7 linked regions of the Homo sapiens genome follow. The protein of the gene in region 7 purifies or fractionates together with the protein of the main gene of each other region. This does not show direct contact. Each region holds a gene or a part of one and is shown on either strand. Other genes may lie near its edges. The genes, in order: CRNN, NRF1, EPB41L2, TBL1X, GRB10, ANO1 and WDR59.

Region 1 (4,172 bases), on a different chromosome or scaffold from region 7:
AAATGGCAGCATGGTGCAACAGAGAGAACACAGGCCTGGAGTCTGAGGGGCTCTAGTCCAGCACCGTCTCCGCTTCACAGAGTGGCTACTTCTCTGAGGATTTCTCAGTGTTCTCATTTATGAATTGGGCTTAGCCATACCACCTCAGAGGATTGCTAGGGAGATCAAATAAGATGAGATGGTAATGAAAATGGAATAAAATCAAATGAAATGAAATGGCAATACCATTATCATTAACCTCTTGGGGACTTACCCCTGGGATGGCCAGGCTATAGACTTCATGAGAGTTGAAACTGCTGCCATCGTATTCAACACTGTATTCCTAGGGCCTTAGCCCTCTGCCTGAAATGGAGCAAGCTTTCCATAAATATTTGCTGATTAGCCACCAGTTGAGTTTCCTGTCCTTGCAATGAGGAGTTACCACATGATCATGGTAAGCCTTTTTTCTCATCAGCTACAAAATGCTACCTACCCATAGCATGGGGTGGGGAAGGTATTAACTTTTTTTGTTTTAATTAAAAATGAGACCAACTTTAAAGAGATGAAACTGGCTTTCTTGTGTCTCATACACTAGGTGTGAAAGGCACTTACAAAACAAGAATTCAAAAAATGTTCTAAGTAATAACAGTTCTAAGTAACATCACCACAAAAACATGTGTGCCCTCTCAGAGTGGCTACTTTGTAAAAGTTAACCTCAATAGATATATTCTTGAACATTTATATTAAAAAAGGAAACAGTGGCCAGGCACGGTGGCTCACACCTATAATCCCAGCACTTTGGGAGGCAGAGGCAGGTGAATCATGAGGTCAGGAGTTCAAGATCAGCCTGTTCAACATGGTGAAACCCTGTCTCTACTAAAAATACAAAAATTAACTGGGCATGGTGGCAGGCACCTGTAATCCCAGCTACTCAGGAGTCTGAGGCAGGGAATTGCTTGAACCCAGGAGGCGGAGGTTGCAGTGAGCCAAGATCGCACCACTGCACTCCAGCCTGGGCGACAGAGCAGGACTCCATCTCAAAAAAAAAAAAAAAAAAAAAAGGAAAGAGTCCCATAACTTTGTAGGCTCATAGAGACAAAGAATGTTCACCAGGACCCCAGCCTGTACCAAGCACTGCTGAGCCCATCACAATGGAAAGAAGCTTCCCTGTCAAGAGGACTCAGCTACAGAAGGTACCAAATGTGGTAGGAGGGGCCTGTTAATTAGACCAAGGCAGTCACACATCAGCAGGTAAAACAGAGACAAGAGGAGGTGTGGCTGGGCTGGGCTGGATCTTGGATGAATCAAGCCTTCCCATAGGGCAGGATATCCTGTCTAAAACAAGAGCCTTGGTTAAAACCCCTATAAAAGGTTCTCATCACACTGACCTGGTACTCCTCACACCACTTAACAGCCACTTGTTTCATCCCACCTGGGCATTAGGTAAGTCCCCTCATAAGAAACCTCTTTCTCATTCTCAGTGTCTTGGTGATCTGAGCTCATAAAACTGGGGCAGTCAGGTATGGACTATGCATCCTTCAGAGCTAGCTGTGAGCACTGGGCAAACCAACGCTACCGTTGGGAAACATGCTCTCCTGAAGCAATCAGGCTTTCTCCTCCTCCCTGAGGCTGGCCTGGGAGCAGCTCCTCTCACTGGGAAACTGTGTGGGCAGCGGCTATGGGGCCACCCATGTGCCTTCCTGGATCAGCAAAGGTTTCTTTTTTCTAAGGCTCTGGAAGCTTCTTTGCAGTGCTGAGAGTCTATGGGATCAGAATCAGTTTACTTATGCCAACCTAGACAATAAGATCAAACTGTGTCATGGATGAAGGGGTTTACATGATTCCCCTCTCCTACACCAGGGTGATATTTAGGCAAAATATGTGTAGATTTTTCTAAGGAATCTAAAATGTAACTAAAAGGTCATCTTATTATTTTATTATCTAAAGGTCAGTGGTTAAAGTCTGCTACATGGTTTTAAAAAAAAAGAAAGATATTTTTCATCTATGTTGAGGAAAACATCCCCAGTTTTTTACCTTGATGAAAAGTTTGCCTGAAATTGTTGGTTACCAGGTCCTAGAAAGGGTTTCTCCTGAACAGCCCACCTTTTGCTATGACTTACTGAGTCCTCATGGCCACACTAATCTGCTTTTTCTAGAACTCAAGTCTCCTTCCTTCCTTTTTTCTCTTTCTTCTCCTACCTATATCTGCCTCGTCCCATCCTCTCTCTGGCTTTCCAGCTGCTACAGGCTCCATCTCCCCTTGCATTTGAGACTTGTCATCTTTGATACCATCTCCTCCTTTGGGTCTCTCCAAGGCTTCTGCTTAATGAATCTTCAAGTCTCTTTTCCTTTTGCTCATGCAACCAAACCCAGGCCTCACCTCAACCTACCTCTAGATTTCTGGCTAATGAAAAAGAAAAGCTTTCCCTTTGATTAGGAACCAACTCATAGGTCACCAGAAATCTGGGCCTGATGGAGCCACGTGCCTGTTGGGCAAGCTGACTTCTCTGATAAGTCTCAGGGCTGTGGACAGAGGCGACATGCAGAGAAACTTGGACCCTCAGAACTGGAAGGCCTCCCACCCAAAGAAGGTTCCCCCCTCCTGAGCATTCCCAGCAGGTGGTAGCCCAGTTTCTTCCCACTTTCCCAAAAAAAACAAGAAGGGAGGGCTGTGTCCCTGGAATTTCTGCTTGGCTCCCATCCAAGACAGGGGTTGACTCACAGATGTATTTACTTCCTTTTGGTGTTCCCGATGGGACCCTAACACCCTTGTGATAAATAAATAAATCCTGTCCACAGGGTACATTCTAGAAAGCCCATTGCATTTGGGTTAAGGAAAAATGGATCCTAGGATTTCTTGGCTCCTTAAAAATTGTGTGGCCTAACTTCTCTGAGCCTGTTTCCTCACCTATAAAAAAAAGTGGAAATAATAAGGATTAGAAGAGATGATGTACAGGAAAGTGATTATATAGGTGTACAAAAATTATATGTGTGTATATGTATATAATAGCATAATAATTATATTTAATAAGGAGCACTTAATATAAGCCAGGCATCTGCCAAGTGCTTTTTATGAATTATGTCTTTAAATCTTCACAATAATCCCACAGAGTACTAATATCACCTTCAATTACAATGAGTAGTAAACTGAGGCATGGAGAGGCAAAGCAACTTGTCCCAGCTCACACCATACTTAAGTGGTGGGGCCAGCATTTAATCCTGACTCAGGAACCTGCCTCCATCCTGTGTGCTCCTCCTTCCCATACATAAGATGCATTATGTAGGAAAGGACAAAGGAAAACTAAAAACAGAGCTGAACGTGCAAGGAAAGACCTAGCAGCAGACGTGCTATAAAGGAAATAGCTGAGGTTGATTATGGAGCCTCCAAGGGAACTTTTCATCTTTTCCAGGTTGACTTCAAAGATGCCTCAGTTACTGCAAAACATTAATGGGATCATCGAGGCCTTCAGGCGCTATGCAAGGACGGAGGGCAACTGCACAGCGCTCACCCGAGGGGAGCTGAAAAGACTCTTGGAGCAAGAGTTTGCCGATGTGATTGTGGTACGGTGTGCTGAGCCGGGTGGAGAGGGGACATAGCAGGAGAGTGAAACCTGGTTTGCCTGCAGAGGCCTTGCCTGGGGAATTTGAGGAGGCAGCAGCTAAACCCAGGCCTGCCGGGACAGATGGCAGCTGTGCAGGCAGAAAAAAAGGTGAAAGAACCAGAGATGGTCATGGGAGTTGGCAAGTCCTGGCTCTTTAGATTAAAACCTTGGTTTTAATTAATTCTAACTTAAAGACAAGGTAAAAGGGCTCTAAAAGGACAACTCAGACAGGAGCAGAGCCTTGGAATATTTCAAAATGAAAATAATTGCTGCTTTCTGCCGCCTCTTAAATTTGATACAGTAAATATTTCCCACGTCTATCTGAAATGTAATCATCCATTCATAGACATTCATTAGAAGCATAGCTCTGGGCTTGCACGAAGCAGTTACTCAAAAATATTAGCAGACTGATCACATCAGAAATGAAATTTTGAAGAGCAGGTTGTTAATAGCTAGGGGGAGACTTTGGAGCCTCACCCCACCCCACCTGGCAAACCAGAACCAAGGCCTTGATGCACTTTCCTGTCTTTGGTTTGCATCTAAAGCAACCAGGATGATGATGGCCTTAGGGACAAGGACATATGGGCACAG
Region 2 (3,500 bases), on a different chromosome or scaffold from region 7:
GCCCACCACCACGCCTGGCTAATTTTTTTGTATTTTTAATAGAGACAGGGTTTTGCCATGTTGGCCAGGCTGGTCTCGAACTCCTGACCTCAGATGATCCACCTGCCTGGGCCTCCCAAAGTGCTGGGACTACAGGCACTTGCCGCCATGCCCTCAAGAAGCAGTTTTATAAGCAGAAAGACCAATTTGAATTTTTGGGAAAAAAGTTATTTGACTCTCACTCGTCTTTGACATACAAAGAAAATGTTAAGTATTTCACTTATTTACTAAGTGTTCTTATGTTCACAAGGCCAAATGCTAGTCACTGAGCTATCTTAAGTATGTTTTTATTGTTATATTTGAATGTCTTTTTATTATTAAGGGTATCTGTTGTTTTGTGATCTGAGGTATAAAATTAGTACAGCGAATTTCCATCAAAATGGTTTCACGTAAGAACACCACTCTGTCATTTTTATGTCACATTTGCATGGTGCTTCCCATTTCCTGTGACTTGGTGTGGCACGGTAAGTAGTGAAATTGGAATTTTGTCAAGGTTCCTCTGCTCTTGAATAAAATATCTCTTAGTTTAAACATTGTGTTATATTACACACTGAATCCTGTTCTTTTTCTTTTTTGTCTGACAGTAGAACTTCATGGAGGAACACGGAGTGACCCAAACCGAACATATGGCTACCATAGAAGCACATGCAGTGGCCCAGCAAGTGCAGCAGGTCCATGTGGCTACTTACACCGAGCATAGTATGCTGAGTGCTGATGAAGACTCGCCTTCTTCTCCCGAGGACACCTCTTACGATGACTCAGATATACTCAACTCCACAGCAGCTGATGAGGTGACAGCTCATCTGGCAGCTGCAGGTAGTGTTGTTTGGATTAGAAGCTCTTCTTTAATTTTTTTTTTTTTTTTTTTGGAGACAGCGTCTCACTCTGTTGCTCAGGCTGGGGTGCAGCAGCACAATCATGATTCACTGCAGCCTTGATCTTCCGGGTTCAAGTGATTCTCCCATCTCAGCCTCTGGAGTAGCTGGGACTGCTGATGTGTACCACCACATCTGGCTAATTTTTGTATATTTTGTAGAGACAGAAATGTCACTGTGTTACCCAGGTTGGCCTCAAAGTCCTGGGCTCAAGCGATCCTTCTGCCTCGGCCTCCTAAATTATTGGCATTACGGGTGTGAGTTACTATGCCTGGCCTTTATCACAACTTTTTTAAGCCTTGCAGTTATAACTTGAGCCTGTATTATACTGAGACTTGAGGTCTGTAATCACTTACTATCAGTGTTATGGCTTTGGTTTTATTTTTTCATCTATTCTGCCTATGTTTTGGCTTTAAACTGAAGCATTTATTCCAATTACGTTAAACAGAATCACTGACATGTATTTAGATTTAAATTTACCTTCTTTTCTATATGCTTTCTCTTTGCCCTACCTGTTCTGTTTACTTTTCTCTTTCTTGGCGTTTTCTTTTGTAGTGATTGAAAATTTTGTATTTTTTCATTTTTTTCTTGTTAGTTTGAAAGTTATAAGCTTTTACTATTATCAATACCTGTAGAAATTGTAACATACATCCTTTATTTATCAATGCCTTATGTTGACTAGGCTCAGTGGCTCACACCTGTAATCCCAGCACTTTGGGAGGCCAAGGTGGGAGGATCACTTGAGCCCAGGAGTTTGAGACCAGCCTGGGCAATGTAGTGCAATCCCATCTCTACCAAAAAAAAATTAGCTGGGTGTGGTGACGTGCTCCCTAGTCCCAGCTACTTGGGAGGCTGTGGTGGGATGACTGATCACTTGAGCCCAGGTGTTTGAGGGTGCAGTGAGCTATGATTACACCACTGCACTACAGCGTGAGTGACAGAGTGAGAGCCTGTGTCCAGTTGAAAAAAAAAAAAAAAAGGAAAAGCAAAACGTTGTATGTACTTGGAACTTTTAACCTCTACAGGGATAATACAAATTTCTTAGAACACTTGCATTTCATGCGCCCATCCTATATGCTATTGTTGTCCTTTGTATTCATTTTTGGTATACAGTTGGCTCTCTTTATCTGTGGGCTCCACATCTGCACATTCAACCAATTTTGATCAAAAGTATTAGGAAAAAATTAAAAGTAACAATATAACAATTAAAAATAATACAAATAAAAGGCCAATACAACAACTATTTGTATAGCATTTACACTGTATTAGGTATTATAATATTAGTATTAGTAACCTAGAAATGATACAGAAGGACGTGAATAGGTCATGTGAAACTACTACACCATTTTATATCAGGGACTTGAGCATCTACACATCAAGATGCTAGAAACAATCTCAAGAGGATTTGAAGGGACAACTGTATTTTAAACACCACAGGACTTTTTTTTTTTTTTTTTTTTTTTGAGATGGAGTCTCACTCTGTCGCCCAGGCTGGAGTGCAGTGGCACAATCTTGGCTCACTGCAGCTTCTGCCTCCTGGGTTGGAGCAACTCTCCTGTCTCAGCCTCCCGAGTAGCTGGGATTACAGGTGTGCGTCACCATGCCCAGCTAATTTTTGTGTTTTTAGTAGAGATGGGGTTTCACCCTGTTGGCCAGGCCGGTCTTGAATTCCTGACCTCGGGTGATCCACCCATCTCGGCCTCCCAGAGTGCTGGGATTATAGGCGTGAGCCACCGCATCCAGCGAACAATATTTTTATTTAAAAAATAATGTTAATTTTTTTTCCTGCATCTCCAACTGGTCTCCTGAGATGGTTTTACTTCTGCCTAAAGACACCATTTAATATTTGCTTTAACATGGATCTGCTAGTAACAAGTTCTATTTTTGCTTGTCTGTGAATGTTTTTACTTAAACTTCAACCTTGAAGGATGTTTTCACTGAGTATGGAATTCTAGCTTGGTGGTTATTCTTTCCTCATGTTGAAGGTACTGTTCCACTGTCTTCTGGATTCCATTGCTGCTATTGAGAATTCAGCTATTTCATTCTAACCGCTACTCTTTCAAAGATTATCTCCCACATGGCCTGCCCCCCTCTCCCGGAAATTTTAGCCATGAGATTTTGCTTCTGCTGCATTCCATCTCTTTTCATTCCATGGCTCCAGTTACTTATGTTAGTCTTCCTCACTTGTATGTCTCTTAACCATCTGTTCTGTATGTATCATCTTTCTGTGTAGTTTCTTCTGTCTTTCAGCTTGTGAAAGACAGAAGATTTTCTTCTTTAGCTGTTGTATTAGTCCATTTTCATGCTGCTGATAAGAGATACCCAAGACTGGGAAGAAAGAGGTTTTAATGGACTTACAGTTCCACCTGGCTAGGGAGGCCTCACAATCATGGTGGAAGGCAAGGAAGAGCAGGTCGCATCTTACATGGATGACAGCAGGCAAAAAGAGAGAGAGCTTGTGCAGGGAAACTCCTCCTTTTAAAACCATCAGATCTTGTGAGACTTATTCACTATCACAAGAACAGCATGGGAAAGATCTGCCCCCATGATTCAATTACCTCCCACCGGGTCCTTCCCACAACATGT
Region 3 (3,500 bases), on a different chromosome or scaffold from region 7:
TACTACAGCAAACGAGGCTTTGAGAAATAATTTGCCCAAGGTCACAATGGCATATGTGGCAGTCTAACCAGCATCAAATAGAGTGGACATGTTACTGATTCCTTCTAATCAATATTCCATCAAAGAAATTTGTAAGGAAATAAATGCACATTCATTAAGTTCACAGGTAAGAATATGAGTGGCCAGGATTATATCAGAATTCAGTTTAACCTTGACAGTTAGGTAAATGGGGGTCAACTAAATGAATTCAATTGAATGGAAAGAAGTACAATGGGAGATAGGGGAGAATAAATGATGAAAAGTGCAATAGGGTGAAAAAATTAAAAAAAAAGAGAAAAACAAAATACTCTTAAAACTTCCATCTTCTAATCTCGAAAATAAGAACTGAAACATCAGTTCTCAATCTTTTCTGTTTCCCAAAACCCTTTCAAAAACCACTCCTAAAGTTCTCTTTCTCCCTTAACCTGTCTCTCTCATCCACTTGTGCACACACACACAGAGATGCTGCACACACACAGGAGTGCATGCACATGGGAACACAATACCTCACTTACAGTCTCAGGCAGTTTATGCACCCATGAGGCCCAAGAACCCCACTCTCCACCCCAGGTCAGGAGTCTGAACCAAATAATCTCCCTCAAGGTAAATGAATCTAGGGTGAAAAACAAGTAGCTTCTGGACAAAAAGAGAAAGAAACAAAGAATTATGGCAGAGTGTAAATCACATTTTAATTTTATGTCTTCAAGCTACTGGGATATGTACATATATCAGTAGAATGTAGGAAACTCTGAAAAATATGAGTGAATTCAGCACTGTTGTTATAATGGCCCAGCCCTGAAGCTCATCAGCAGGTCTGGAAACGTAAATACAAGGGCTTGGAAAAGGTGACTTCAGAGTTGGTAATCAGAACTATATGACAAGCTTTTTAAAACCACAATTATCCTGGAAAAAGGCAACTGAAGGGTAACATAAGTTTTTAAGTATTTGAAAATTCTTTCATGAAGGTTGATGGTGAGGCCCTAAGAGCAAAGCAAGAGGAAACTGGTCTCTTCAGAAAGATTTGATTTAAATGCATGAACTACCCTACCTGACCTAGGCAATAAGGTCCGATAGATGAACAGTGACAAAACCACTTTGGGAGCCTTTCCATGCCTCCTAACCTGGAAAGAACTAAAATGATCCCCATGATGCCGAACTTAGTTATCTATGCAAAATTTCAACTTGGCTATCTAAAGCAAAACCTTATTTAAGATACAGGTCAGATCTCAGGAAAGATTGTTCTTATCCTTCAATTTATTCCAGATTATTTGGGAGACAATCTATGTACTTTTTGACTTTATGGCTCTAATAAGGTAGAGTGAAAATATGCAAAATTCAGAGAGGTATCTGTGAAGTGAAAACATGTTTCCATTTTAAAGATAACTGAGAATATGAAATTAGCTCAATTGCAATCTTTGAAGAAAAAATATCCAGAAGCAGTATGAATGCACTCATAGATCACATGAAATCTATTCCAATGCCAAGAAGTAAGAGACATCACTTTAAAATAAGAAAATTCAGAAAGCCTCTGAAATTCTAATTAAAATTAATACTATCCCAACACCATGGAAATATATAGCCTATCTACTCTCCTAGACATGAAAAACATGCCTCTAAGAAACTTACAACACAGATCCCAAGCCAACCACAAAACCAGGAGAAACAATATCAGTGGTTAGAAAAGCAAATAAACATTACCGACATGATATTTCTACATGAAACATTACCCATTTCTATGTCAACTCTATCAAAGAATCTTCACTAAAGATTCTTCACCTCTAATATATTAAAGGTTCAATGAATTAATTCATCAAATATTTATTAAATACAATGAGTAGGTGCTTCACATCACAAATACCTATAATATTCCCTCTCTCATATGAAATACACACACATACACATACTTTATAGAAAAAGCTACCAAAATCTATTAGCTATAACTATAAACCGGCTGGGTGCGGTGGCTCACACCTGTAATCCCAACACTTTGGGAGGCCAAGTCGGGTGGATCACTTGAGGTCAGGAGTTCAAGAACAGCCTGGTCAACATGGTGAAACCCTGTCTCTACTAAAAATACAAAAATTAGCCGGGCATGGTGGCACACGCCTGTAATTCCAGCTACTTGGAAGGCTGAAGCACGAGAATTACTTGAACTGGGAAGACGGAGGTTGCAGTGAGCCAAGATCACGTCACTGCACTCCAGCCTGAACGACAGAGTGAAACTGTGTCTCAAAAACAAAATAAAAACAACAACAGCAACAAAAACTATAAATCATTTCTAGATGATAACTGAGATTATTTATTTCTTTCCTTCTTGGCTTACCTATAACTTTTTTTTTTTTTTTTTTGAGATGGAGTCTGGCTCTGTCACCCAGGCTGGCGTGCAGTGGCGCAATCTCCGCTCACAGCAAGCTCTGCCTCCCGGGTTCACGCCATTCTCCTGCCTCAGCCTCCCGAGTAGCTGGGACTACAGATGCCTGCCACCACGCCTGGCTAATTTTCTGTATTTTTAGTAGAGACGGGGTTTCACCGTGTTAGCCAGGATGGTCTCGATCTCCTGACCTCATGATCCACCCGCCTCAGCCTCCCAAAGAGGTGGGATTACAGGCGTGAGCCATCGCGCCCAGCTATAATTCCTAAACAACTCTAATAGCTAACTTGGAGGCCATTTCCCTATAGTTAATGACATCAGGCATTGACTCCATTTTAGATTTTAGTCTAGGGCACTGCCCACGCAGAGAAATGATACAAATCTCATAATATCAAGTTGCTGGTTTATGCCAAAACATGGCATCCCAAAGGATGTTCTGTCTAGAATTGGTGACAGAATCGCATACAAATCTTCTATTTGCTCAGACATTCCAAAGACATTAGAACTGTTTGCATGTTGAGAGGAAGAGACTAGGGCTAAGAGTGGATCTGCTGACTCCTAACGGTTCAGCCCTGAGATTCCAAGATTCTATAAAAGAGCAGTGAATTAGGGTTTGGCTATTATTTGCTGACTACGAAAGCCAGCATAAACATTTACTTCAGGCTTTGAAATCTGTAAGGGTACCCAGTGGTTAGGTACAGTAATTCTGAATCTGAAAAAAACAAGCCCACTGGAAATGTTTCTAAATAAAGGTGGGATGGAGGAGGTAGGCACATTTCTTTTGTTTTCTCCAAGTAAACAGCACAGATTTTAGAAATGCAAAATGTGACTCAGTGGTATTGATCCCTATAAACTGTTTATTTGCCTTATAAAACTAGTAGCAATTCACACTTTTCAATAAAAAGCCCACACATAGCTTTTAAACAGGCTACTTCAGTTCAAAAAAGAAAGAAAAAGGCCCATGTCTTCAGCTGGGATTACAGGCGTGCGCCACCATGCCCGGCTAATTTTTGTATTTTTAGTAGAGACAGAGTAGAAACAGAAACAAAACAAAACCTTCAAAAATATTTAGCATTCTGCTATATAAAAT
Region 4 (3,500 bases), on a different chromosome or scaffold from region 7:
TTTATCACGGGCAATAATCATGTGTTACATGAGAGTTCTCAGATTAGCAGGCGCAGCACGATTTCCTAAAGTTGAAGATGAGGGTGAAGAAGCTCAGGTCCAAGGGTTGTGATGGAAAAAATGGAACGGGAAGTTCTTCCGGCCAGATCGTAAGCAAACACTAGAGAGCAGCTTCTAAGACATTTATAGCAGGCAGGTTTTTAAGAAGGCATTCGGATTTGCCCAAGAAGAAAACAATGAACCCAGAGAGGCCCACCGAACTCCCAGAGCCCCTGCACTCACTGACTGAATGTGCTCTGTTCTCTTCCCCATTCACCGTGGCCTCTCTGTTCTTCGATGGATTTTGGTGGGAAACGCCGGCTGAGGTCGTGGTGGCTGCTGTCGCTGCTGCCGTGGCCGCAGCCGCCGCCGCCGCCGCACTGGCTTGCTGCTGAGCGAGCTTCTCTCGGAATGCCTGCTGCCGCGTCTGCACCACGTCGGGCATCACGGCGTCTATCAGTGACAGGGACTCTATGGGGCGGCCGTCGAACACTGTGCCATCCTGGGGAAGCAAGCCAAGGTACAGCTGTCAGCTCACGGGGGTGAGGGCTCTGGGAATGGCCTCTGCTCTCTGGGCAGGAGAAGCGCAGGGAAGTGGGGCGTAAACAGCTGGCTCCCAGCAACCAGGGGGCCACGGGGGAAGCGGCATGGACCTGGAGCCTGGGGTGAAGGGATCCCACGGTGGGCAGGGAAGGGGACACGACAAACTGTTGGTAAGAACTAAGTGTGATGGTTGTTCTGAGTGTCAAACCCAATTGGGGCATTGAGGACAAAAAGGCCATTTATTCTTGACAGAAAGTGCTATCCCTGATGGCACAATTCTCAACGTGGCGGGGGCGGGGGGTGACTGTGACTCCTTGGGGGGCATTAGGCAACGTCTGGAGACTTTTTTGGCTGTTACAACTAAGGGAGGAGAGGTGCTCCTGGCATCTGGTGGGTGGAGCCCAGGGACGCTGCTCAACATCCAACAGTGCCCAGGATGGCCCCACCACAGAGAAACACGCAGCCCCAAATACTGAGTGCTGCGGTGGAGAAGACCTGCCCACGTGCTATCGCGACTGTGCAAAATCTCTGCAAATGACCATCCATTATATGGGAGGGTAACGCTTCAGAAGCAGAGCCCAAATGAGATGCACACAGCATTTAGGCCTGGATTCCAAGTCCATCTGTCCAGGGGATTTAATAAAATAGGCACTTGCTGCTACTTGAAATGACTCCTTGGGTTCAGGGTTAGACTAACCATAGCCATGACACAATTGACATCATTTTGTTTTGATTCATGTTTTTTTGACCATTCTTTGATTCTCTGATTTCCGTTTACCATGGAAAACTTTCCACACACGTTTAAAAATACAGCAGGAGGTTCTTTCCTTGTGAAACACGCCAGATATTCGAATCAGGTGAACCTCAGTAAGCCTTGGGGTTGTATCTGGATGTGCAAACACATGTTTATATGCTCTGAACCTGAATTACTTCAGAAGTGAGGAAGAACTGAAAGGCTCAGGTTTCAGCTGAAGAATAACTAAATGAAACATCACTCCAGATGATTTCTGATTACAAGACAATATTCAAAATAAAGAAAACAATACAACCTATGTAAAGAACTAGCTGCATCACCTCCTCAGGCACTCTTGGCCCTTGATTCTGGCCATGGAGTGGACAATGGTGACCGATGGGTCAAGACGCTCCCACACCCCCTTCCTCCTTCATATGTTCACACCCAAATGAACAAGCCCATGACAAAACGCGGTAACTGTCCAAAGTAGTAACAACATGTCCTCATTTAAACTCCGCGGGCACACTGTCTCTCTTTTTTCCTTAGAGACGGGGTCTCGCTCTGTCATCCAGGCTGGAGTGCAGGGGCACAGTCATGGCTCACTGCAGCCTCAAACTCCTGGACCAAACTGATCTTCCTGCCTTAGCCTCCGAGTAGCTGGGGTTACGAGCATGTGCCACTGCACCTGGCTAATTTTTTTTATTTTATGTAGAGATAGGGTCTCATTATATTGGCCAGGCTGGTCTAGAACTTCTGGCCTCAGGCAACCCTCCTGCCTTGGCTTCCCAAAGTGCTGCGATTACAGATGTGTGCTACCGCCCCTGGCGTCTCACTTTTTAATGATTAGAAACCATTGTGACAAATGGGACAGTCTTTCATTAGCCCCTAGAGTGCTGGAATCTGGAGTGCCGAGGGAAGGCAACTATGAAGGCTTCTCAACAGATGAGAGGTAGAAGGCAATGAGCAGAGAAAAACAGAGTCACAGGCGCCTTGAGATCTGATGGCTGGCTGGACCTTGGAGACATGTCCTCTTAGATACACACGTGTGTGTTTTGCAGTGAGGAAACTAGACAGGGCCAGAAGGAGTCAGTGGAAGATCCCGGGCACACAGTGTGAAGGGGTTTGCCAGGGAAAAAGGAGCACAAGAGAGGAAAAAACACCGGAGTTTCGAAAGCCACAGCTTTGCGAAAAATGGCAGGCAGAAGTGCAAGAAAGAAAACAGGGACTGGGTACAGTGGCTCACGCCTGTACTCCCAGCACTTTGGGAGGCCAAGGCGGGAGGATCGCGGGAGGATCGCTTGAGCCCAGGAGTTCAAGACCAGCGAGACCTCATCTCTACAAAAAATAAAAAAATTATCTGGACGTGGTGGTGTGTACCTATAAGTTCCAGCTGCTCAGGAGGCTGAGGCAGGAGGATCTTTTGAGCCAGGAGGTTGAGGCTGTAGTGAGCTATGATTGTACCACTGTACTCCCACCTGGGTGACAGAGAGAGACCCTGTCTTAAAAAAAAAAAAAAAAAAAAAAAGAAAAGAAAAGAAAAAGAGAACAGGATATTATTACTTTGTGATTTTCTAAAAGAGTTTTTTAAAGCAGTGTAACATGCTGTGAAGGAGAAAGGTTTGTAAGGGCAAGACCAGTTCCCAGAAAGACGGGACAGAGGGAATCCTGGAAGAATGTGACTGCCAGGTGGGATGGATGACGGTACAGTATGGAAAAGTTCAGTAGAATCACGCGCCTGGGTCAGAGTAGGAGAAAGAGAAGCAGAGGGAGGAAGCTGCAGGGGACTGAGAAATCAGTAACAGGGACTGTCTGTGGTCCCAGTGCTTTGGGAGGCTGAGACAGGAGGATCACTTGAGCCCAGGAGGTCGAGGCTGCAGTAAGCCATGACTGTGCCACTGCACCCTAGCCTGGGCAACAGTGTGAGACTCAGTCTCTAAAAATAAAATAGGGACTCAGGTGAAGGCGGCAAGAAAGGTTGTGGATCCCATTATTCCCCAGAAGTCAAGGGGATCTTCACTGCAGAATCATGAGACCAGAATAGGAGGGGACAAGAGAGGGTGAGGTGTGTGGTTTAAAACCAAAATTGGTATAAAATTGGCACAACTCCTCACTGTGGACCAATGTAAAAAGTGGGAGGGGTTCCAAGCCAAGTGCACAGTTTTAATGTGCATTTATTTTTCCATCC
Region 5 (3,500 bases), on a different chromosome or scaffold from region 7:
TTTCTCTTTTACCAACTTTCCCTATTTTTTAAAGGAAGATCCAGCTAACTATCCCACGTAGACCAGCAAATGATGCATGGATTTAAAATTACGAGAACTCACATGGCATGAAGGGAATCAGTGCTGCGAAATACAGGAAAGCCGTTCCTATAATGGTTTGATGACATGCCATAAAGTTTATTTTTACTGTGAACAAATCCCACTCTTCCCATAACAGCTTCAGCCTTGGCAAGGCGTCCAACTGAAACGTCTGGCCATTGTCATACAGGAGGAGATGGATAAAACGGGTGGCCAGTGCCACTTTCCCATCCACGGCTTCTAGCCAGTGACTTCACCCCAAAAAGATAATCTGACGTTTTAGTGTCCACAAAAGCTTCTCTATTTATTGGGTTGTTTTGAGCATTTTAAAAAGTCCTGTGTTGACTTTAAAGCGGCTCAGAGACATCGCCTAAGGCAAGACTAAGGGATATCACACAAAGACAAAAAATCCCCACCAAAGAGGCTCACAATAGAAGGGACAGTGACTATGGAGAGGGGTGCTGAGATTTAGGGATGTCAGGGATGGTGGCAGGAACTGCAGAGCTGAGGGGCGAGGTCCTTCTTCTCTGTGCCTTGGCTCACTTGTGTTTGTCTAGAACACATGCGTGGCCCTTGCACTCTCAAAAGCCTGGGTTCCTTCTCTGTACAGAATCGGCTCACCCATCGGCTTTCCTATGTGCAAAGCCTTCTTGCCCTTCCCAAGTGTCTCCTCTGCCCATACCCTGCCTGCCCCCCAGCTCCCTTCGGGTTGCATGGCAGCCCCCGGTAAGTTCCTCTGCAGCGTGGACCATGCTCCGTGACCTCTGGTACCCAGCAGCCTGCTCCATGGCCACTTCCCACCTGATGTGGTGAGCCCAGTTACCGCCCCGCTGTGCCACGGTTTCCTCAGCTGGGAAGCGAGGGTAACCCACACTGCCTCCCTCCGAGGGCACTGATAACAAGGAGGAGCTCATCAGCATCTGCACACAGTAAGCACTCAGCAAATGGCCTCACTTCACAAAATAATCTTTGGTGATTCCAGATTGATCTCCACATTTTTTTTTAATCCACCTGAAAGTAAGAAACAAAACTACTTATCTGAGAGGACACCAGAGAGAAGACATTGGGCCCAAGGAACAGCACCTGTGACCCTGTAGGGAGAGGGCTTTGCTGTCCCACAGAGCAAGCCTGCCCCTCCATCCCAGGGACTTAGCGCAGGTAGTCCCGGGGCACATATGGGCGAGTTCAGCCAGAACTCGAGGTTCAAGGGTCCTGGGCAACTACTCCAGCAGGGAGGCAGGCCTTCTGGCTTTCCAGCCCACCCTCGGGCACCTTCGCCATGCAACTGCACCTCCATATTCCCAGGCACTCCCCAAGGCTACTGTGATGCTCCCAAGAGATGCTCCCAAGAGAAAAACAGCTCTCCCACCAGACTTAACTCCTCAGGAGCTAAGTACAAGGGGTCACGCTTCAAAGAGCAAAGTTGAACAAACCCTGGGACAGGCATCATTCAGCATCAATGAATATGACAAAAAGTGAGAAGTCGGAGGGGAAGCCGGGGTGGGAAGCTGGGGAGGCAGCTGACCACGGGCGCCAGGGCCGCTGCACCCTCTCCCCTCCGTAAGAAACAGCTGCCACCTGGGGCAAGGTGATTATCTGGGCTGCGGAAGACCCAAGATGTCAGACCACAAAGAAAACTCTCAGAAGTTTCTAGAAGCAAGAAGAGCCCAGGAAATGAACAGAGCTCCCCGGAAGATGGGGTGCTGAGACAGAAGGCACCAGAACCCCATCCTGACAGAGGCCAGTGAGGGCAAGGGGCAGTCCCAGCAGAGATGGCTGTACATCCTCCGCAAAGGCCCAGAGAGGCACGCAGGGTCCCACGGAGCCCCACGCCATCCCGACTGCGACAGGGCAGACAGGCGGATCCTTGAGGGCTGCCCCTGGCTCTCAGCTTGATTCTACAAAGATCTTCATTCAGAATGTCTAAGGTACTCTCAGCACCTTCACCTTCGACATGACCATTCTCTAGACACCCTCCTCCCAGGCACTCGAGACAAAATCCAAGTCACCCTCCACACACTCTCTGTCTCCTCACAGCCCTGGCAAAATTCAAGTGCTGGCAAAACGCAGCTGCTCCTCCTCAGCAACGTGCTCAAATCCCCCCTCCTTCTTCATCCTCAGGCAGCGCACAATCATCTCCCATCCGGGGGCTCCTGAGACCACTTCCAAACCGGCCATGCTCTGCCAACCCTGCTGCCCTCTACCACTGCCCCCACGACCCCTGGCAACCAGAATGCTGGTGTCAAAACCCAAACCCAGCCCCTTCACACGCCTGTCCAGAACTCTTTCTCACGTGGCTCCTGAAAAAGGCACACAAAGTGCTTCAGCACCGGCCCCCATCTGCATCATCTCTTCTGCTCACAAAACCTCTGCCTCCATCTATCTGAGCTCCTATCACCCTTTGACATCCGTTCAGAAATCCTACCTCCCAGGAACCTCCCTCAACGTCCCCAGCACGTTCCTCCCTCCAGCCTCCCTGTTTCCACAGAGATGTGCCTACCCCTGAATTAGCAGAGGAATGTGGCAAAATGCAACTCTGAGGGAGGTCTGGGGTTGCACGACAAGCTCCAGGGGGTGCTGTAGCTGCTAGCCTCCCGTCCCTACTCTGGGTAGTGAGGACTTGGGGCATGCAATCAGCTCCATGGCTGTTCTTCCAATCTTTCCAGAGATTTTTCCTCTGGTGGTTTTCCTGCATATCCCTCTACCTAGCACAGTGCCTTGCACATAGCAGGCACTCAATAAAAGGTACTACTGGAATTGAACTGGCTACAAAGTTCAACCCAAGGGCGGCACACTGCACACACTCAGTGTATCCGTTATCCCATCAAAGCAATGTATCTGCCTCTTGACTTTGCAAGACCAACACTATTCCCCCCAACACCATTTAACTCACAGAGAGCAGTGTCCCTGCCGACAGCTCTCATCCTTGGAGAAGGCTCTGCCCATAAGGCCTGGACCTACCTGACAGCGAGGATGTGCACAGGCTGGGAGCGCTGCACCCTCTGCCTCGGGGACACCTGTGGCTGGATGGACCGAGGAGGGCCTGAAGCCCGAGGCTGGCTGCGGGCATGCTGGCCATTCTGCAGGAGGGGCACCGTGTCTGACTGCATGCTGCAGGCCGAGTACAGGCTCTCCAGGGATGCATTCATATCGTTCACCAGGGCTTCCAGGTCCACATCATCCTCTGCACAGAAAAAGGCAAGAGCAAAAAAGAAACTTTAACAATGGAGAGCAATCAAACCCAAATGTACATCTTGGTGATCAGGTTCCAAACCTCAATCCTATTTTTCAAATATTATGGAAGGGGTAGAGGGGAAACACCAAGACAAGTATGACTGTATGGAAGCATGCATATTACATGTATTCATCATGACTGACATTCCAGAGACAATTCAATCATTAGAGCTGGGCTGCATTTCTAC
Region 6 (3,500 bases), on a different chromosome or scaffold from region 7:
GATGGCCTCGATCTCTTGACCTCGTGAACCACCCCCCTCAGCCTCCCGAAGTGCTGGGATTACAGGTGTGAGCCACTGCGTCTGGCCCGTCTGCCCCTTCTTTAAGAACAGCTTAAAGCTAAAACAAGATACCAGCCTCGCACCCTCTGACTATGGAAGCAGCTGCCCCCCTACTGCCCCCCACGCAGCCCACCCCCCACCCCCCACAAACAGCGCGCAGTGAGATAGTTACGTCCTCGTCCCGCTCCAGCTCCAGGCCCGCCTCCAGGAGGTTGCCCTCGTACTCCTCCCTGCGGAAGCGCTTGTCATCCTCGTGGTAGTCCATCGGGGGCTCCCCCGAGCCTGCATCCAGCGACGCCCCCTTGCCCGGCAGGGGGTGGTCCTGCTTGACGCTGCGAGCCCCAGAGGGGGTGTCGCTGTGCTGCACCCTCCTGACCAGGGTCCGGTTGCCCGAGGGCCTCTTGTGATGGTACACCAGGATGTAGTCCACCTTGCGCCGGCCGTCCCTGAAGTACAGGCCATACTTGCACTCGGCATCAGGGTCCACAGATAAGGAGTTCAGCAGCTAAGGGTGGAAGAAAAGACACCCATTCACCATCGAGCTGCTCGTGATGGGCCTTTGGAGGGTGCGCTGCTCCCTTCATCCACTCACTCCTCACTCACTCGTTCAACAAACACTCCCTGAGCGCCCTCCACGGGCCAGGCACTGTCCTAGGGCCTGAGATACACCTGGGAACACAGCAGAAGACCCTGCCTTCAGGGAGCTGAACTTCGAGAAGGAGGTATTCACTGCTAATCATTCATGAAGGTGCCAAGCCACATATGGTCCCCCAGAAGCCCTCCTGGTCTATGGAACTAGAGCAGGCTGGATGTCAGGAACCTCCCTGGCTGCTTGCAAAAAGCTATGGTAGGGGATGGTTAATGGGTACAAAAAATAATGAGAAAGAATAAGACCTAGTATTTGACAGTACAACAGGGGACTATCATCAATAATAATTTAATTGTACATGGACAAATAACTAAAGGAGCATAACTGGGTTGTTTGTAACACACAGGATAAATGCTTGAGGGGAAAATACCCAGTTTTCCATGAGGTGATTATTACGTATTGCATTACCTGTACCAAAATATCTCATGTACCCCATAAATATATACACCCACTATGTACCCACCCAAATTAAAAATTAAATGAACAAACAAAATATCCCCCAGCAACAAAAGCTATGGCAAAAGCTACCAAGTGAATGAGGGCTCCCCATGCACATGGATAGGGGCTGAGGCAGAGCTGAGCTCAGGTTCTGTGCGTGCAAATCTCAATCTCTGATGGCCAGTGTCAGAGGCAGTGCCATGTCAAGGTGGCCACAGGGCCACTAACTAGCTGTGTGTCCAGAGGTGAGGCTTTCACTGTCTTAGTCAGGGCTCTCCCCCAAACAGAGCCTGAGCAGAGGCCAGGGGTGCAAGCGTTTTACTTGGGAGGTGATCTCAGGTGCCAGAGTAGGGTGAAGGGGAGGGAGGCTGACAGGGGTGGGTTAAGGAGCGGCCACCGCTATGTGCAGCTGGGGTCCGTCCTGCTGGGGACCCTCGGAGTGACCTTGAAGGGCACATCCCACTGCCAGTACCCAGAGGGTGAGGAAGTTGGGTGATCATGCACCCGCTCTGGCCCTTTCTTGGCTGGGGGTCACTCCTGGGGTGTTAATGACCCTGCGCTTGCACCTTCCCCACACGTGGCCTGCGGCAGCACCTGCACGGTCAGTCACCTTTGGGTGCAGAGGACAGTGAGCCACTGGTATGGATGGGCACCGCTGGTGGGTGCCCTGGGGTGACCAAGGGGGCGGGGTTAGGGCTCCAACAGGGCCTGCCCTGCCTCAGTTTCCTTATTTGTTTGAAGGACTCTAGGGGGCCACGGGAGATAGCAGTATGGAGCAGTTTGTTTAAAAACCAGATATTCCCACAGTGGCAGTGTGATGGGACCATTGCTAAAGCCAAGCCTGCATTGCTGGAATTCCCGAGGGGTTTGGCCGGTTATCAAGACAGACAGGTCGATCAGCAATCTGGGTTTCCGAAATAAGAAAAAATAAAAAAAGCCATGCTGGGTAGAACCTAACAGGCAACTCCAAGCTGCTAATGGTCCACAGAGCTGTGCCTCATCCCTCGAGCTGGCCGCCTGGTTTCCACCTCAGTTTCCTGTGGCTACGTGAGGACGCTCCCTAGGGCACTATCAGTTCCCGAGGGGCATCATCCGAGAAGAGGGCCTCCCTGATGGAGTGCAGGGACGGCATGCTGCGCCAGGCAGGGCCCGAGCACCTGTGGCCTTTGGACAGAGCTGTGCTTGGGCCTCGCTGGCCTGGAGGGTCCCCCCACGTGGTCGCCTGGAGCCCCTGGGCAGCTTCCGGCTGCACCATGGCTCTAAATGGCTGTGCACTGGTCGGGAAAAGGGGCAGGCAGAATCCCTCATTCGAGGCAGGTGGGCTGTATACAACCCAAAGTGTATCAGGGAAGCCGGAGGGTGGAGCCCCTCCCCAAACAGTCAGCACTGCAGTGGGGGAGAGGGGGAGGGAAGGCCTCGAGTGGAGGCTGTCCTTTTTAGTTGTAGGGGAAGGAGAGAGGAGGCTCTGGGCCAGGGCTGCTGGTTGGGGGCTGCCCCACCTTTCATAGGTGTTGATGTCAAGGGTCTAGACTCCTCTACCCCTGGTTAGGGGACAGTTGGGGCCATGTCCCTGGCACCTTGGCCTCTCTGGCCCTAGGATGCCTCTCCTGGAAACAGCATTGCTCACCACCTGGGAGGGCCTGGTCAGCATCTGGTGCCGGCAGGAGGCTGAAACTAAGCAACTGACTTCTCTCTACAGTAACACAGGGCCCCGCTGTGCTGGTGACCTTCAGGAGGACCTGGACTCAGTGTGCGTGCCCCGCCCACCTTGCCCTCTGTGACAAAGTCTGAGGGTGCTTAGGGGCCACGACCACGCCCATGTGGGTGGGTGGCTTGGGAGGGCTCAGGGGGAAGGGTGGGGGAGGGCTGGCTTTTGAGGGCAGTGGGTTCCCATGCCCAGCCCCATGAAGGACGGGGTTCACGGAAGACCCCAGTATCGCAAGTCTGTAGCCAGCACGGGGGGCCTGCATTCCTTCTGCAGGAGAAGCACGAAAGAGCTATTCTTCTCAATTCGCCAAGGAGGAAACTGAGGCCCAGCAGGGCAGGAGAGCCCGGGTTACAGCGCAGGCGGGAGGCTGAGCTCAGCCTCAAGTCCCATCTGCACGCCCAAGGTGCGGCCCCCCTTAGTAGGAGCCGCGACTAAGGGTGACGCTGTTTCTCGGCCCAGGTATGTCATCTCGCTGAGTCCCCACAAGCTGACCCTATGAGGGGGTTACTATAGTTAGGTCCATTTGACCTGGAGGAAACTGAGGCTCCCACGGGTGAGCTGCCCAGCTCAGTGGCCCTGAGTACCAGACTCCTGCTGGCTGACCCCAGTGCAGGGCTCTGTCTCTGGTGCTGAGGGGCATGGGGA
Region 7 (3,500 bases):
GTGTACTCAATCTCCATCCCTTATCTCTGGCAGCTGCTGATGGGATTTCTATAACAAATGGAATCATGTGATATGATGTGTAGCCTTTTGAGTCTGGCTTTCATTTTTGTTTTGTTTTGTTTTGTTTTTTGAAGGGACAGAATCTTTCTCAGTTGCCCAGGCTGGAGTGCAGTTGCACAGTCCTTGCTGAGTGCAGCCTCCAGCTCCTGGGCTCAAGTGTCCTCCCATCTCAGCCTCCTGAATAACTGAGTCGACAGGCATATGCCACCAGGCCTGGCTCTTTTTTTTTTTTTTTTTTTTTTTGAGACAGAGTCTCACTCTGTCACCAGGCTGGAGTGCAGTCGCACGATCTCGGCTCACCGTAACCTCTGCCTCCTGAGTTCAAGCGATTCTCTGCCTCAGCCTCCTGAGTAGCTGGGATTACAGGAGCCCATCACCACGCCTGGCTAACCATCTTTGCCAGGCTGGTCTTGAACTCCTGACCTCACGATCCACCCACCTTGGCCTCCCAAAGTGCTGGGATTACAGGCGTGAGCCACTGTGCCTGGCCAGTCCTGGGTAATTTTTAAAAATTTTTTGTGGGGGTGGAATCTGGCTGTTGATGCCCAGGCTGGTCTTGAACTCCTGGCCTCACACAGCCCTCCCACCTTGGCCTCCCAAAGTTTTGGGATTACAGGCATGAGCCACCACCCTACCTGGCGTCTTTTGCTTAGCCTAGTGCTTTTGAGATTCATTCTTGTTGTTGAGCCTATCTGTTAGTGCATTCCTTCTTCTTGCTGAGTAGTGTTCCAGTATATAGACTGCAATTTGTGTATTCATTCACCTGTTTATGGACATTTAGTTTTTTTCCAGTTTTTAGTGACTGAAGAAAGCTGCTATAAGTAGATAAGTATCAAGGCCAATTTTTATTTATTGATTTATTTATTTTTCTTTTTTGAGACAGAATCTTGCTCTGTTATCTACGCTGGAGTGCAGTGGCACGATCTCAGCTCACTGCAAGCTCCGCCTCCCGGGTTCACGCCATTCTCCTGCCTTAGCTTCCCGAGTGGCTGGGACTACATGCGCCCGCCACCACACCCTGCTATTTTTTTGTAGTTTTGGTAGAGATGGAGTTTCACCGTGTTAGTCAGGATGGTCTCGATCTCCTGACATCGTGATCTGCCCGCCTCGGCCTCCCAAAGTGCTGGGATTACAGACGCGAGCCACCGCGCCCGGCTGCATTGTCTCTTTCTTATAGATTAAGAAGAGTGTAAAAATTTTTCTGGATTCCAGTTCTGTATGGTTATATATATTGTAAATCCATTCTCCCAAGTTGTAGCTTGCCTTTTCATTCTTTTTATGGTATTAAAAATTTTTTTTTAATTTAAATTAAAATTTTTTTTTTGAGATGCGATCTCGCTGTTACTGTGGCTGGAGTGCCTATTCACAGTCACGATCATGGTGCACTGCCTCCTTGAACTCCTGGTCTCAAATGATCCTCCTGGTTCTGCCTCCCAAGTAACTGTGTCTGTATTTGTGAGTTACCACTCCCAGCTATGTGCTGTCTTTTGATGAACAGAACTTTAATTTTAATGCAGTTAAATTTATGGATTATGCTTTTTCAGTCTTGTTGTTTTTGTTTTCAGACAGGGTCTCGCAATGTCGCCCAGGCTGGAGTGCCGTGATTTTGAATCAGTGCAACCTCTGCCTCCTGGGCTCAAATGATCCTCCTGCCTTGGCCTCTTAAGTAGTTGGAAATGCAGGCACACACCACCAGGCCGGGCTAATGTTTGTATTTTTTATAGAGCCATGTTGGCCAGGCTGGTCTCGAACTCCTGGGCTCAAATGATCCACCTACCATGGCCTCCCAAATTCTTTTTAAGTCTTCTTAAGAAAAATGTTTAGGCCGGGCTTGGTCGCTCACACCTGTAATCCCAGCACTTTGGGAGGCCAAGGTGGGCGGATCACAAGGTCAGAAGATCGAGACCATCCTGGCTAACACAGTGAAACCCTGTCTCTACTAAAAATACAGAAAATTAGCCAGGTGTGGTGGTGGGCACCTGTAGTCCCAGCTACTCAGGAGGCTGAGGCAGGAGAATCGCTCGAACCCAAAAGGTGGAGGTTCAGGGAGCCAAGATTGCGCCCTTGGACTCCAGCCTGGGCGACAGGGTAAGGCTGCGTCTCAAAAGAAAAAAAAAAAAAAAGAAAAGAAAAAGAAAAACGTTCGTATCCTAGATTCATAAAGAAATTCCTCAATATTTTCTTTTATCTTGAAATTGAAAATGAATCATCTCAGCAGAAAGTATACTCTCTTCTGACCTAATAATGGTTGGTGATTTATTAGTCTCAGCATTGCAACAGCTTTGCCACAAAGATAAAGATTGAGGACTGTGTTTTACTCTAATAAAAACTAAAATAAAAAAGCACAACTCAAATTATTTGGCTAGGAGCAAAATTATAAGTAATTAATAATCTGTGTGTTTTTCTGGAGCAATCCAGCTTCGGTTCCTACTTTTTTAGTTTCATACAATGTTCATTTTGAAAAACTATAGAGATGGAGGGGCAGAATAGGACTTTTTGGTGTAAGTGACTATTAATATGTATACTGTGAAATATTTTTTCTTTTTTAAATAAATTTATATATGTGTATTTTAACATCGAGATGGGGGTCTCACTGTGTTGCCCAGGCTGGTGTCAAACTCCTGAGTTTAAGTGATCCTCCCACCTTAGCCTCCCAAAGTGCTGTGATCACAGGCATGAGCCACTGCACCTGGCCTATTTTTTTTTTCTAGAAAATTTAATATAAAGATGTGGTGATGAATGGGAGAAGAACAAAGACGTTAAGGATTTCGTGCCAGACTGTGTTAAGATTTAGGTTATGCCACCTGTCTTCCATGTGATCTTGGGCAAGTTACTTCCTTTCTAAGCTTCAGTTTTCTTTTTTAAATTTTTTTTTCTTTTTTTTACTTTTTTTTTTTTTGAGACGGAGTTTCACTCTTGTTGCCCAGACTGGAGTGCAGTGGCATGATCTCGGCTCAGTGCATCCTCCACCTCCCAGGTTCAAGCAATTCTCCTGCCTCAGCCTCCCAAGTAGCTGGGATTACAGGCGCCTGCCATCATGTCCGGCTAATTTTTTGTATTTTTAGTAGAGACGGGGTTTTACCATGTTGGCCAGGCTAGTCTCAAACTCCTGACCTTAGGTGATCCACCCGTCTTGGCCTCCCAAAGTGCTGGAATTACAGGCATAAGCCACTGTGCCCAGCCTTGTTTTTTTTTGTTGTTTTTTGAGACAGAGTATTGCTGTCTCCCAGGCTGGAGTGCAGTGGCGCGATATAGGCTCACTGCATTCTCCAACTCCTGGGTTCAAGCGATTCTCCTGTCTCAGCCTCCCGAGTAGCTGGAATTACAGGTGTGTGCTGCCATGCCTGGCTAATTTTTGTATTTTTAGTAGAGACGAGGTATCGCCATGTTGGCCAGGCTGGTCTTGAACTCCTGACCTCAGGTGATCCACCGACCTTGGC

What was found.
Region 1: the proteins of WDR59 (region 7) and CRNN purify together in Homo sapiens (affinity purification with mass spectrometry; 2 studies listed by BioGRID and IntAct, with this or other methods). This does not show direct contact.
Region 2: the proteins of WDR59 (region 7) and NRF1 purify together in Homo sapiens (affinity purification with mass spectrometry; 2 studies listed by BioGRID and IntAct, with this or other methods). This does not show direct contact.
Region 3: the proteins of WDR59 (region 7) and EPB41L2 purify together in Homo sapiens (affinity purification with mass spectrometry; 2 studies listed by BioGRID and IntAct, with this or other methods). This does not show direct contact.
Region 4: the proteins of WDR59 (region 7) and TBL1X purify together in Homo sapiens (affinity purification with mass spectrometry; 2 studies listed by BioGRID and IntAct, with this or other methods). This does not show direct contact.
Region 5: the proteins of WDR59 (region 7) and GRB10 purify together in Homo sapiens (affinity purification with mass spectrometry; 2 studies listed by BioGRID and IntAct, with this or other methods). This does not show direct contact.
Region 6: the proteins of WDR59 (region 7) and ANO1 purify together in Homo sapiens (affinity purification with mass spectrometry; one large-scale study listed by BioGRID and IntAct). This does not show direct contact.

Annotation. Positions count from the first base shown.
Region 1 is NC_000001.11:152,411,464-152,415,635, reverse strand, and holds the start of CRNN (cornulin), read left to right. Parts: upstream 1-1,372; 5' UTR 1,373-1,422; intron 1,423-3,389; 5' UTR 3,390-3,402; coding exon 3,403-3,540; intron 3,541-4,172. UniProt on the Homo sapiens protein: Promotes cell proliferation, G1/S cell cycle progression and induces expression of the cell cycle regulator CCND1. Regulates proliferation induced by pro-inflammatory cytokine response via activation of NFKB1 and PI3K/AKT signaling pathways.
Region 2 is NC_000007.14:129,656,720-129,660,219, forward strand, and holds part of NRF1 (nuclear respiratory factor 1), read left to right. Parts: intron 1-623; exon of another isoform or gene 624-626; 5' UTR 627-632; coding exon 633-855; intron 856-3,500. UniProt on the Homo sapiens protein: Transcription factor that activates the expression of the EIF2S1 (EIF2-alpha) gene. Links the transcriptional modulation of key metabolic genes to cellular growth and development.
Region 3 is NC_000006.12:131,056,746-131,060,245, forward strand, and holds part of EPB41L2 (band 4.1-like protein 2), read right to left. Parts: intron 1-3,500. UniProt on the Homo sapiens protein: Required for dynein-dynactin complex and NUMA1 recruitment at the mitotic cell cortex during anaphase.
Region 4 is NC_000023.11:9,685,058-9,688,557, reverse strand, and holds part of TBL1X (F-box-like/WD repeat-containing protein TBL1X), read right to left. Parts: intron 542-3,500; coding exon 283-541; intron 1-282. UniProt on the Homo sapiens protein: F-box-like protein involved in the recruitment of the ubiquitin/19S proteasome complex to nuclear receptor-regulated transcription units. Plays an essential role in transcription activation mediated by nuclear receptors.
Region 5 is NC_000007.14:50,671,397-50,674,896, forward strand, and holds part of GRB10 (growth factor receptor-bound protein 10), read right to left. Parts: intron 3,263-3,500; coding exon 3,040-3,262; intron 1-3,039.
Region 6 is NC_000011.10:70,084,817-70,088,316, reverse strand, and holds part of ANO1 (anoctamin-1), read right to left. Parts: intron 2,900-3,500; exon of another isoform or gene 2,799-2,899; coding exon of another isoform or gene 2,775-2,798; exon of another isoform or gene 2,647-2,774; intron 566-2,646; coding exon 233-565; intron 1-232. UniProt on the Homo sapiens protein: Calcium-activated chloride channel (CaCC). Plays a role in transepithelial anion transport and smooth muscle contraction.
Region 7 is NC_000016.10:74,975,124-74,978,623, reverse strand, and holds part of WDR59 (GATOR2 complex protein WDR59), read left to right. Parts: intron 1-3,500. UniProt on the Homo sapiens protein: As a component of the GATOR2 complex, functions as an activator of the amino acid-sensing branch of the mTORC1 signaling pathway. The GATOR2 complex indirectly activates mTORC1 through the inhibition of the GATOR1 subcomplex.